Linked DNA regions of Homo sapiens. The protein of the gene in region 3 purifies or fractionates together with the protein of the main gene of each other region. This does not show direct contact. Each region holds a gene or a part of one and is shown on either strand. Other genes may lie near its edges.

Region 1 (3,658 bases), on a different chromosome or scaffold from region 3:
AGATTTGCGCTGAGGGATAGTTGGGAATAAATGAATGAGGAATGAATGGAAGAATCCAGCAGAGATTCACAAACCATCTAGGGATGAACCAAAGGGTTTTAAGCCATGCTCTCCCCTTGGAAAAGTAAACACATGGGATCCCCATGTAGAACCCACATTCTTCAGTGTCAGTGGGATGGGAAATGAAATACCTTCCTTCATATGGACTTAGCCCATTTAGAATATAGGCTGTTCTCCTGTCCACTTTTGTTATTGATTTGAATAGCATTAATCTATTTTTCCTTGGTATCTAACATTTCTCTCTTTGTGTTTTATGTTGTTAGAAAATCATATGTACTTATTTGAAGGTAAAGATTATTCTAAAGAGCCCAGTAAGGAAGACAGAAAATCATTTGAACAACTGGTAAACCTTCAGAAAACCCTTTTGGAGAAAGCTAGTCAAGAGGGCCGATCACTCCGAAATAAAGGCAGTGTAAGAACTGTTAATTTATTTAAAAGTTGTTCTTCCAAACTCTCATTCTAAAACAAACAAAAAAATGATGCTGGCATCGTTTTGTTCTCTTAGGATGATTTGTCAAGAAATAAGTATGTGTTTGCTGAAATGTTATTATAATTAACTATACCCTAGTATAAAAACTATGTAAAAAAGTCAGCATGAAAAACATAAAGGAGAGAATATATTGTACGATGTCATGTAGGTGAAAGCAGCCTTGTCCATCCAAGTCACCCCTAAAGGCATTCCTATATTATACCAAAATACCATATCCTGCTGTTGGTAATGATGACCCTATGACAAGAAGAGAGGATGGCAATCATAAATGATATATGTAGTGTTCACAGTGTTTGGCAGTTAACGTGGTCATTAAATGCTAGCTATCACTAAGATAATCATGATGTTGAAATACAATCTTAAAAAAGTTACATAATACATTGCAGAAAGAGTTCCATTAAAAATGGCTGAAGTGGCATCCTGCAGGGTATGCTTTTAGTCAAGGAAAAAAGTTACTTTTCTGAAGTAACTTATTCCTAATGAAATGAATCAAAATGACTGTTTCAACCATGCCAATGCTAGGGCTGAGTTTACAGCATGGTATCCTGGTCACTGTGCCTGTGAAGTGTGTAGTATGAACAGTGCCTCCAAGTGCTTTGCCTCCAGTTCCCACCATGCAGGGTGTGTGGAGATGCAGTGTTCTGTGGAATATTAAGCATGTTGCTTCCGTACAGTGTGTGTTAGGGATAATGAAATTCGGGGAGGAATCTTCTTGACCCTGGTGATGGATCTTGTTCTTCCTCTAGGTTCTCATCCCAGGCCTTGTGGAGGGATCTACCAAAAGGAAGCGGGTTCTGAGTCCAGAAGAGCTGGAGGACAGACAGAAGAAAAGACAAGAAGCAGCTGCCAAGAGAAGGAGACTCATAGAGGAGAAGAAGAGGCAAAAGGAAGAGGCTGAACATAAGAAAAAGTATGTCTGCGTTAACCAAGCTGGCGGCCACAGTTGAAGGAGTCACTATTGTATAGTGAGACCACAGTTGAATATCACTTTAAAAATACAGAAAATTCATTTTAAGTTGGTTCCTATTGGTAACAGAATACTTTCTGAAAACATTTCCTCTAGGTAAGTGAAAAGTCTCAGTGTATAAGGCAGGGAAGATGCATTCCATTAAAACCAGAATTGTTTTCTTTTTTCTTTTGAGATGGGTTCTTGCTCTGTTACCCAGGCTGGAGTACAGTGGTATGGGCACAGCTCATTCAGCCTCAACTTCCCATGCTCAGTGATCTACCCACTATAACCTCCCTAGTAGCTGGGAACACAGGTGTGTGCCACCATGCCTGGCTAATTTTTTTTATTATTTGTAGAGACAGAGTTTCACGGTGTTGCCTAGGCTGGTCTCAAGATCCTAGGCCCAAGCTGTCTTTCTGCCTTGACCTCCAAAGTGCTGGGATTACAGGCGTGAGCTACCATGCCCGGCCAAAACCAGAAGATTTTAAGATTTTATTGTAGCTATCTGACAAAGAATAATTTACTTCAACAATCTCTTTTAGTCTTAAAAACAGGAACATTCAGGGAGTGCTCATTATTGAATTGTAGTCAGGAAGCAGTTAGCCTAATCAGTAAGACTTGTTTACAAATAAGTAGAAAACTTCAATCAGGGTGAGTTTCTAATTGCATTTCTACTTGGCAGATATTGTTTGTGAACAGCAGTATAAAATGTGCTCCAAGGGAAATTGTGATTGTCTGGGTTAATTTCCTTTTGTCTCTGGCCTGCTAAAGGATGGCCTGGTGGGAATCCAACAATTACCAGTCCTTCTGCCTGCCCTCTGAGGAGAGCGAGCCAGAGGACCTTGAGAATGGGGAAGAGAGCTCTGCTGAGCTGGATTACCAAGACCCAGATGCTACTTCCCTCAAGTACGTTAGTGGTGATGTCACCCACCCTCAGGCTGGGGCCGAGGATGCTCTCATTGTGCACTGCGTAGGTACGAGAAGTGGTATGGGCTGGGGATGGGGGCCTCAGTCCTTATGGTGCCAAGAACTGGGGAGGATGGGGCACTGGGACTGGGGTGGTGGTCCCAGTGTAGTATTGTACAGTCAAAAAAGTGTGAATTTTAGAGTCAGGAGATATTCCAGAATCATTTCACTCTTGGCTTTCTCATTTACCTGGTTTAGTTACCCAACCTTTCAACTTCAACTTCCTTATCCATATGATGGGACAATATCTGTCTTATCCTCTGCACAAGGTTTTTAAGAGGGTGAAATGAAGCAACATTGATAAGACAAACAAATCCTTTGAGAAAAAGCAAAACTTCAAGCTTGTTCCCTTGCTTGACCTTTGTACTTTTTACTTCATCTGCCTAAAACCCTTTCTTCCCAAATAACCACATCAAGTGTTGTTCAAATGTCTGTTTCTCAGAGAGGTCTTCTGTGATTACCTCATATAAAACAGGCCCCATCCCCCCTGTTATTCTCTGTCCCTTCTCCCATATTTTCCTTTATCACACCTGTCCCACCTGACACATTACCTATGTATTTGTTTATTTGACTGTTGCTTTGCATTAAAAAATACACTTATGGCAGCAGGGGTTTTTTCTTGTTCGCTGCTGTGACTGTGGTGCCTAGAACGATGCCTTACGTGTAATACATGCTACCAAACGTTTGTAGTGTGAATGAATGACTATAAATGCTAAGATACTAAGCAGCTTTGTTAGTACCAGCTTGAATAAGTCACTTAACCTTTCCTGTGTACTGTTTCATAACCTTGCCTATGTGCTGTTGCATAACCTATTGCTTCTACTCACTCTGTAATGTTCCATCTACTCTCCGTCCTTCCGCAGTCATTTGCCAGGAATCACAGATGCACCACAGAGATTTTGCTCATTGAGAACCCTAATTTTTGAGATGCTTTCCTGTTATCATGGCCCCAGCTATATCTTCCAGAAAACATAAACATATTTGGGAAGTCCAACCTGTGATATTCCTAGGAGATAAGATATTTTGTTTCTTCCCTTTGAAAAATCATTCTTCCACAAGTCCCTTTTGTGTGCCTTTGTTTTTCTAAATTGTGCACTGGACTTCACCTCCTATAGATGAAAATTTTCTCTTTCTTCAAACAGATGACTCTGGCCACTGGGGCAGAGGTGGTTTATTTACAGCTCTGGAAAAGC
Region 2 (2,703 bases), on a different chromosome or scaffold from region 3:
TATGTGTTCATGGGCACATTGTCTTTATTTGTATTTTTTATGAGGCTTTTGTGAACATTTTGATAGTAGTGAAATACCTGTGCATGGCATGAATAAATAATATATGGCCCTGCTATTATTTTTGTTGTATGTCATATGAGGGAATACTGGGAAAGGTCCATGTACGTTTTCTTTCTGAAAAGTTCTGGTAATGCCTAAATTCCTTTATTAGTCATTTATCCATACATATCAAGCACTGCCCTCATTGAACTTTATATTACATTGTGGATACCTCCTAAGAAGAGTATCTTATTCTTAGTTCCTAATCCTTTTCAGTCAGTCTGTTTATTGGTAGCTGCTCTCAGTGACAGGGGAAATCAGGCAACATGGTAACGAGCACCTACGAATATGGGGTCCTAGAAAGGGAAGTGAATTCTACAAAGGAGAGCTGACTAGGATCAGTCCTATCGCTCCTATTGGAGGTAGTCATGTCCACAAGCCAGCAATACCTGTGCCATATACCATGAGGTTAAGCACCAGGAAGACACCTAGAAATACACTTTCAAAAAATCAAAATAGTAAGGCAATAGAAAAAGAAGGCATAATTTATTGTGTCTATTATGACTAGTGTTTAATAAGACTTATAAGAAAATAATCAAATTATTAGATCATTTAACATATATTCTGGAATTAGAAGCAAAAAAAGTGAGAACATAGCTGAGCTCCATAAACATGCAAATTATATTTTTATTCAACAAATATCTGTTGTCCCAACTTATGCCAGGCACCCTGTTAGGCAGTGAGGAATGTGAGAGTGACTATGACAAATGTGGTTCCTGTTCCTAGTGGGGAAGGAATATAAATAATAGTATCAGAGGTATGATGACAGAAGTGCAGGAGCTGAGAGTCAGAAAGGCATCTAAACCCAGGCTTCCCTGAAATGACCTGAAGCATGAAATGCGGAGGATTAAGGATTTCAGGAAGAAGGAGCAACCTGTGAAGAGGTTTTGTCAACTCTGACCTCTCCAGAAACATTTAGCCACAAGAAAATCCATAATTTAGTGGAGAATGTCTAAAACATTTAGTGTTACCCAAATTCAGCTCAAGATGAATCAAATGCAGGATGACAATGTACCCCATTTCACAGTTTTCCAAAGAAAATACTGATAATGATGAAAAGAATGACAGCAGTTCAGGCTTGTTGATGCATTTTATTGTGAGATGGGAGTCTGGTAAAAAACTAGAAAATGACCATGATGTAACAAGGAACTTAAAAATGAAGAGTCAGATCTGTAACTTACATACATGAATACAGGAACAAATTGGCACAAAATGTTAAACATTGTTCCCAACACTGTTTATAGAAGTTAATCCTAATTTGGCTTACTAAGGAAATGAGAGTTGTATGGTTAGGCTGATTTCTTAATAAAACTGCAGAGCATCATGCTATTAGTCACACAGTGAATTTCAAAATTTAAGTTTTATATTAAAAACTGGGTAAAGGTAAAATGACTTGATTGTAGTTGTAAAACTAATACATTCCCATTTAAGTTCTGTTCTACAGTCCAAGGCAAGTATAAATGTTAACATAACACTGTTAAATCAAATCTCAATGCAGGAGAACCAATTGCATCTCTACTTTAAATCTTATCAACTTTCCAAATTTTCATACTAAAATATATTATTGTATTAATACAAACTACAGTATTATACACTACACTGTGTAATAAATAAAGAAATATAAAAATAAGACACATAAATATAAAAGTTTTCTAAAACTAAAAGTACATATGTCAGTAAGAAGGGTATTAATACTGCCAGGTTTGAAGACATACAGTACAAAAATGTTGCACAGATCTATAAACTAAAAGAAATAAAATAATACTGATAGGTAAAAATCAGCTAATGTTGTTAATAAATTGGGTCCATAATAACTAACATTTGGAAACAGTTATGAGCCAAATAACAATAGCATGTCCATGTCTGAAATGCAAGTACATGGATAAAGCAGATTAGAAAATTTCCCTTTCGTTTCTGTAGAGAAATTCTGAAAATCAATCAACATAAAATCAATACCGAGGAATTGAAGGATGAAATGTCCCAGTGTTTCAGTTTCTCTGACAGAGTCAGTGGTTTTAAGTTTTATTTGGGAATTTTGATACAAGAGACAAATCAACAAATGCTAGTTATTGTAGGCCACACATTGGATGAAGGCGGGTTAGAGCCTTGAAAATACTGAGAAATGGCACTTACAGCACACAGGTCTTGCTTAAGGCCAAAGGAGATACAAAGCTTCATGTCATATCCTTCATATGTTACCACATATTCAAACACAATCACAAACACTGATTCTGATGATTTTGCTGTCCTTATCAGATTAACATTGTTAGTCCCTGCAATCAGAACTCAATGGCAATCTTTTGAACTCCATTTTAAACCACGTGAGTAAGAAACTTCAGTTCTTCTATCAGCTGCTTTCTTAAGGCTAACAATACACTTTAAATGATAATACGCTCTACTAAGACATCTAAATATTAGAAATTACTACCTTCTAGACTGAATTTATAAAAGGTAGTTAGCACGGGTTGGAACTACATTATACTTCTCTGTGAAGGGAATTTTGTAGTGCAGAAGTTCTCACATTTTAAAAAACATAATAAAATACTGAAGCGGATTTAGCATATGTTTACCAATAAAAAATTATAAAATTTCTCCCAATTGTAC
Region 3 (3,658 bases):
TCCAGCAGGTCCTCTGAACTCCCTTCTTCATCAGAAAAAGACCGCCTGACTTTGGGCTGCAGCATGTCTTGAGTGATTTTATTTCTGGCATCCATACTTTGCACATCTTCTTCACTGCGACTCTTGTCTAGAATTGAAAGGACACAGCGCCATTCACCGGCAGTGAGACATGGCAGGCAGACACAGCTCACACTGCTGGGAGCTCGCGTGCGCAGTGCTGCGGAAGGAGGGGTCTGGGCGGACCGCCCTCACGTGCCCGGGTGCTGGTGGAGGGACTGCCCTCACGTGCCCAGGTGCTGGTGTGGATGCCCTCACGTGCCCGGGTGCTGGTGGAGGGACCGCCCTCACATGCCTGGGTGCTGGTGTGTGGATGCCCTCACTTGCCTGGGTGCTGGTGGAGGGACCGCCCTCACTTGTCTGGGTGCTGGTGGAGGGACCACCCTCGCTTGCCCAGGTGCTGGTGGAGGGACCACCCTCACGTGCCCGGGTGCTGGTGTGGATGCCCTCACGTGCCTGGGTGCTGGTGGAGGGACCACCCTCACGTGCCCGGGTGCTGGTGGAGGGACCACCCTCACGTGCCCGGGTGCTGGTGGAGGGACAGCCCTCACGTGCCCGGGTGCTGGTGGAGGGACAGCCCTCACGTGCCCGGGTGCTGCTGGGTGGATGCCCTCACGTGCCCAGGTGGTGGTGGAGGGACCGCCCTCACGTGCCTGGGTGCTGGTGTGGATGCCCTCACGTGCCCGGGTGCTGGTGGAGGGACCACCCTCACGTGCCCGGGTGCTGGTGGAGGGACAGCCCTCACGTGCCCGGGTGCTGCTGGGTGGATGCCCTCACGTGCCTGGGTGGTGGTGGAGGGACCGCCCTCACGTGCCCGGGTGCTGGTGTGGATGCCCTCACTTGCCTGGATGCTGGATGAGGTATGCTTCCACGAGGTTGTTGAGGATGTGGTTTTTACAGATCCGCTCCACGGGACAGCGGCAGGTAGGACACAGGGACGAGCGCTCCATCCAGCCCGAGTAGCAAGCCGCGCAGAACGTGTGCATGCAGGGCTGCAAACTGAAAGTGCAAGAGGAACAGTGTCCAGACAGTCCCACAGATGCAACCGCGACCCTCGACCAAGGTCCGCAGCAGCCCCACCACGGAAGGGCCTACAGGGGCCCAGCCATCGTTCAACCTAAAAACCCTTTAAGTCAGTCTTGGTTAATGAAAAGAAATCAGAGGCCACACGGCCTCTGTGTTTTCAGGAAAGACAGAGGCGAGTAGATTATGACTTCAGGAACACAAACAACAGAGACAGCAAGTGTTTCTGGCCCAGAAGTTGGAAGGTTGTCACTCTTGAGTTCCCGCGGAAAAGCAAGGAGGCCCTTCCTCAGCGGCTCCTACGTTCATTCTATGCGAAATACACCTTCCCAGATAAGGAGCATTTAAAATGTGCAGAGTTCCTTTCATCTGTTTGCAGAGTTCACGGGGTCACACACGACCCACACACTCAAAACTTGTGGGGTCTACAGCCTCCGGCTCTGGGTTCCAGGTTTCCTCCTTGTTGGTGCCACGAGTAGAATGAAAGTGGTAGCCATGCGGGGTGGCTCACGTCTGTAATCCCAACACTTTGGGAGGCCAAGGTGGGCAGATTACCTGAGTGCAGGAGTTCGAGACCAGCCTGGCTAATATGGTGAAACTCCCGTCTCTACTAAAAATACAAAAAAATTAGCCAGATGTGGTGACGCATGCCTGTAGTCCCAGCTACTTGGGAGGCTGAGGCAGGAGAATCACTTGAACCTGGGAGGTGGAGGTTGCAGTGAGCCAAGATCACACCACTACACTCCAGCCTGGGTGACAGAGCGAGACTCTAACTCCAAAAAACAAAAACAAAAACAAAAAACCACCCCGGGCTACATGGCGAAACCGTCTCTACAAAAAACACAAAAATCAGCAGGGTGGCTGGGAGTAGTGGCTCACGCCTATAATCCCAGCACTTTAGGAGGCAAACGTGGGCAGATCACCTGAAGTCAGGAGTTCAAGACTAGCCTGGCCAACATGGTGAAACCCTGTCTCTACTAAAAAATACAAAAAAATTAGCCGGGCATGGTGGCACACGCCTGCAGTCCCAGCTGCTCAGGAAGCTGAGGTAGGAGAATCGTCTGAACCCGGGAGGCTGAGGTTGTAGTGAGCCAAGACTGTGCCACTGCACTCCAGCCTGGTGACAGAGCGAGACTCCATCTAAAAAAAAAAAAAAAAAAAAAAAAAAAAAGGAATAAAAAATATTTAGAACATTAAAAAAAAAAAAAAAGTCAGCCAGGCATAGTGGTGTGCACCTGTAGTCCCAGCAACTCAGAAGGCTGAGGTCAGAGAACCGCTCAATCCTGGGAGGGAGAGGTTGCAGTGGGCTGAGAAAGCTCCACCCACTCCACCCACTCCACCCACTTATCTGGGTGACAGAGTAACCTCAGCAGATGCCAGGCCAAACAGGACCTGCAGGCTTGTCTCATGCCCAGCCCTGCCCCACACGGGACGAAGAACCTGCAGTGCCATGTTCCGTGAGCCAAGGGTGAACACGGTCGCACCTCACGCAGTCGTGCAGCAGGTCCTGGCAGATGATGCATGTCAGCGTCTCCTCCATCTTGTCTGGCTTCCCAGCCGCTGCTCTGACGTCCTCGTGGACGGTTTGGGCATTTCTACGCGGTTGTGCGACCAACAACTGCCCGTTCAGGTCAAGGTCCCCATCTACAGGAGAAAGGGATGTGTTCTGTCGTAACCAAGAAGGAAATACACGCAGGTTCAGGTCAAGGTCCCCGTCCACAGGAGAAAGGGATGTGTTCTAACTGTCGTAACCGAGAAGGAAATACATGCAGTCTTTTTTTTTTCGAGACAGAGTCTCGCTCTGTCGCCCAGGCTGGAGTGCAGTGGCGCGATCTCGGCTCACTGCAAGCTCCGCCTCCCGGGTTCATGCCATTCTCCTTCCTCAGCCTCCTGAGTAGCTGGGACTACAGGTGCCCACCACCACGCCCGGCTAATTTTGTGTATTTTTAGTAGAGACAGGGTTTCACCGTGTTAGCCAGGATGGTCTCAATCTCCTGACCTCGTGATCCACCCGCCTCGGCCTCCCAAAGTACTAGGGTAACAGGTGTGAGCTACCGCGCCCCACCCTCTTCTGGTGTTTTTATTTTTCTATAATGCTCAGATGTTGGTAATCAATTAATTTTTATTTTTAATTAAAGAAACTGTACACAATTTAAAAAGCCAAGTATTTAGAAGAAGCCAGGTGCAATGGCTCACAACTGTAATCCCAGCACTTTGGGAGGCTGAGGTGGGCAGATCGCTTGAGCCCAGGAGTTCAAGACCAGTCTGGGCAATATAATGAAACCCCATCTCTAAAAAAATGGGAAAAAAAATTAGCCAGCTATGGTAGCGTGCACCTGTGGTCTCAGCTACTCGGAAGGCTGAGGTGGGAGGACAGTCTGAGCCCAGGAGGTGGAGGCTGCAGTGAGCCAAGACTGCACCACGGCGCTCTGGCCTAGGTGACAAAGCAAGATCCTGTCTCTTAAAAAAATGTATACATAATATATTTAGAAGAAAACAAAGGCAGTCACCCTCCGTCTCAGCCGCTCCTCACCCAATTTCCCTCCTCGGAGGAAAACTATTTTCATGTCTTTGAGCT

The links.
Region 1: the proteins of CHFR (region 3) and CHD1L purify together in Homo sapiens (affinity purification with mass spectrometry; one study listed by BioGRID). This does not show direct contact.
Region 2: the proteins of CHFR (region 3) and ZEB1 purify together in Homo sapiens (affinity purification with western blotting; one study listed by BioGRID). This does not show direct contact.

What each region holds. Positions count from the first base shown.
Region 1 is NC_000001.11:147,284,028-147,287,685, forward strand, and holds part of CHD1L (chromodomain-helicase-DNA-binding protein 1-like), read left to right. Parts: intron 1-323; coding exon 324-472; intron 473-1,296; coding exon 1,297-1,460; intron 1,461-2,270; coding exon 2,271-2,473; intron 2,474-3,607; coding exon 3,608-3,658. UniProt on the Homo sapiens protein: ATP-dependent chromatin remodeler that mediates chromatin-remodeling following DNA damage.
Region 2 is NC_000010.11:31,527,670-31,530,372, reverse strand, and holds the end of ZEB1 (zinc finger E-box-binding homeobox 1), read right to left. Parts: 3' UTR 569-2,703; downstream 1-568. UniProt on the Homo sapiens protein: Acts as a transcriptional repressor. Inhibits interleukin-2 (IL-2) gene expression. Enhances or represses the promoter activity of the ATP1A1 gene depending on the quantity of cDNA and on the cell type.
Region 3 is NC_000012.12:132,856,504-132,860,161, forward strand, and holds part of CHFR (E3 ubiquitin-protein ligase CHFR), read right to left. Parts: intron 2,725-3,658; coding exon 2,565-2,724; intron 1,057-2,564; coding exon 902-1,056; intron 128-901; coding exon 1-127. UniProt on the Homo sapiens protein: E3 ubiquitin-protein ligase that functions in the antephase checkpoint by actively delaying passage into mitosis in response to microtubule poisons.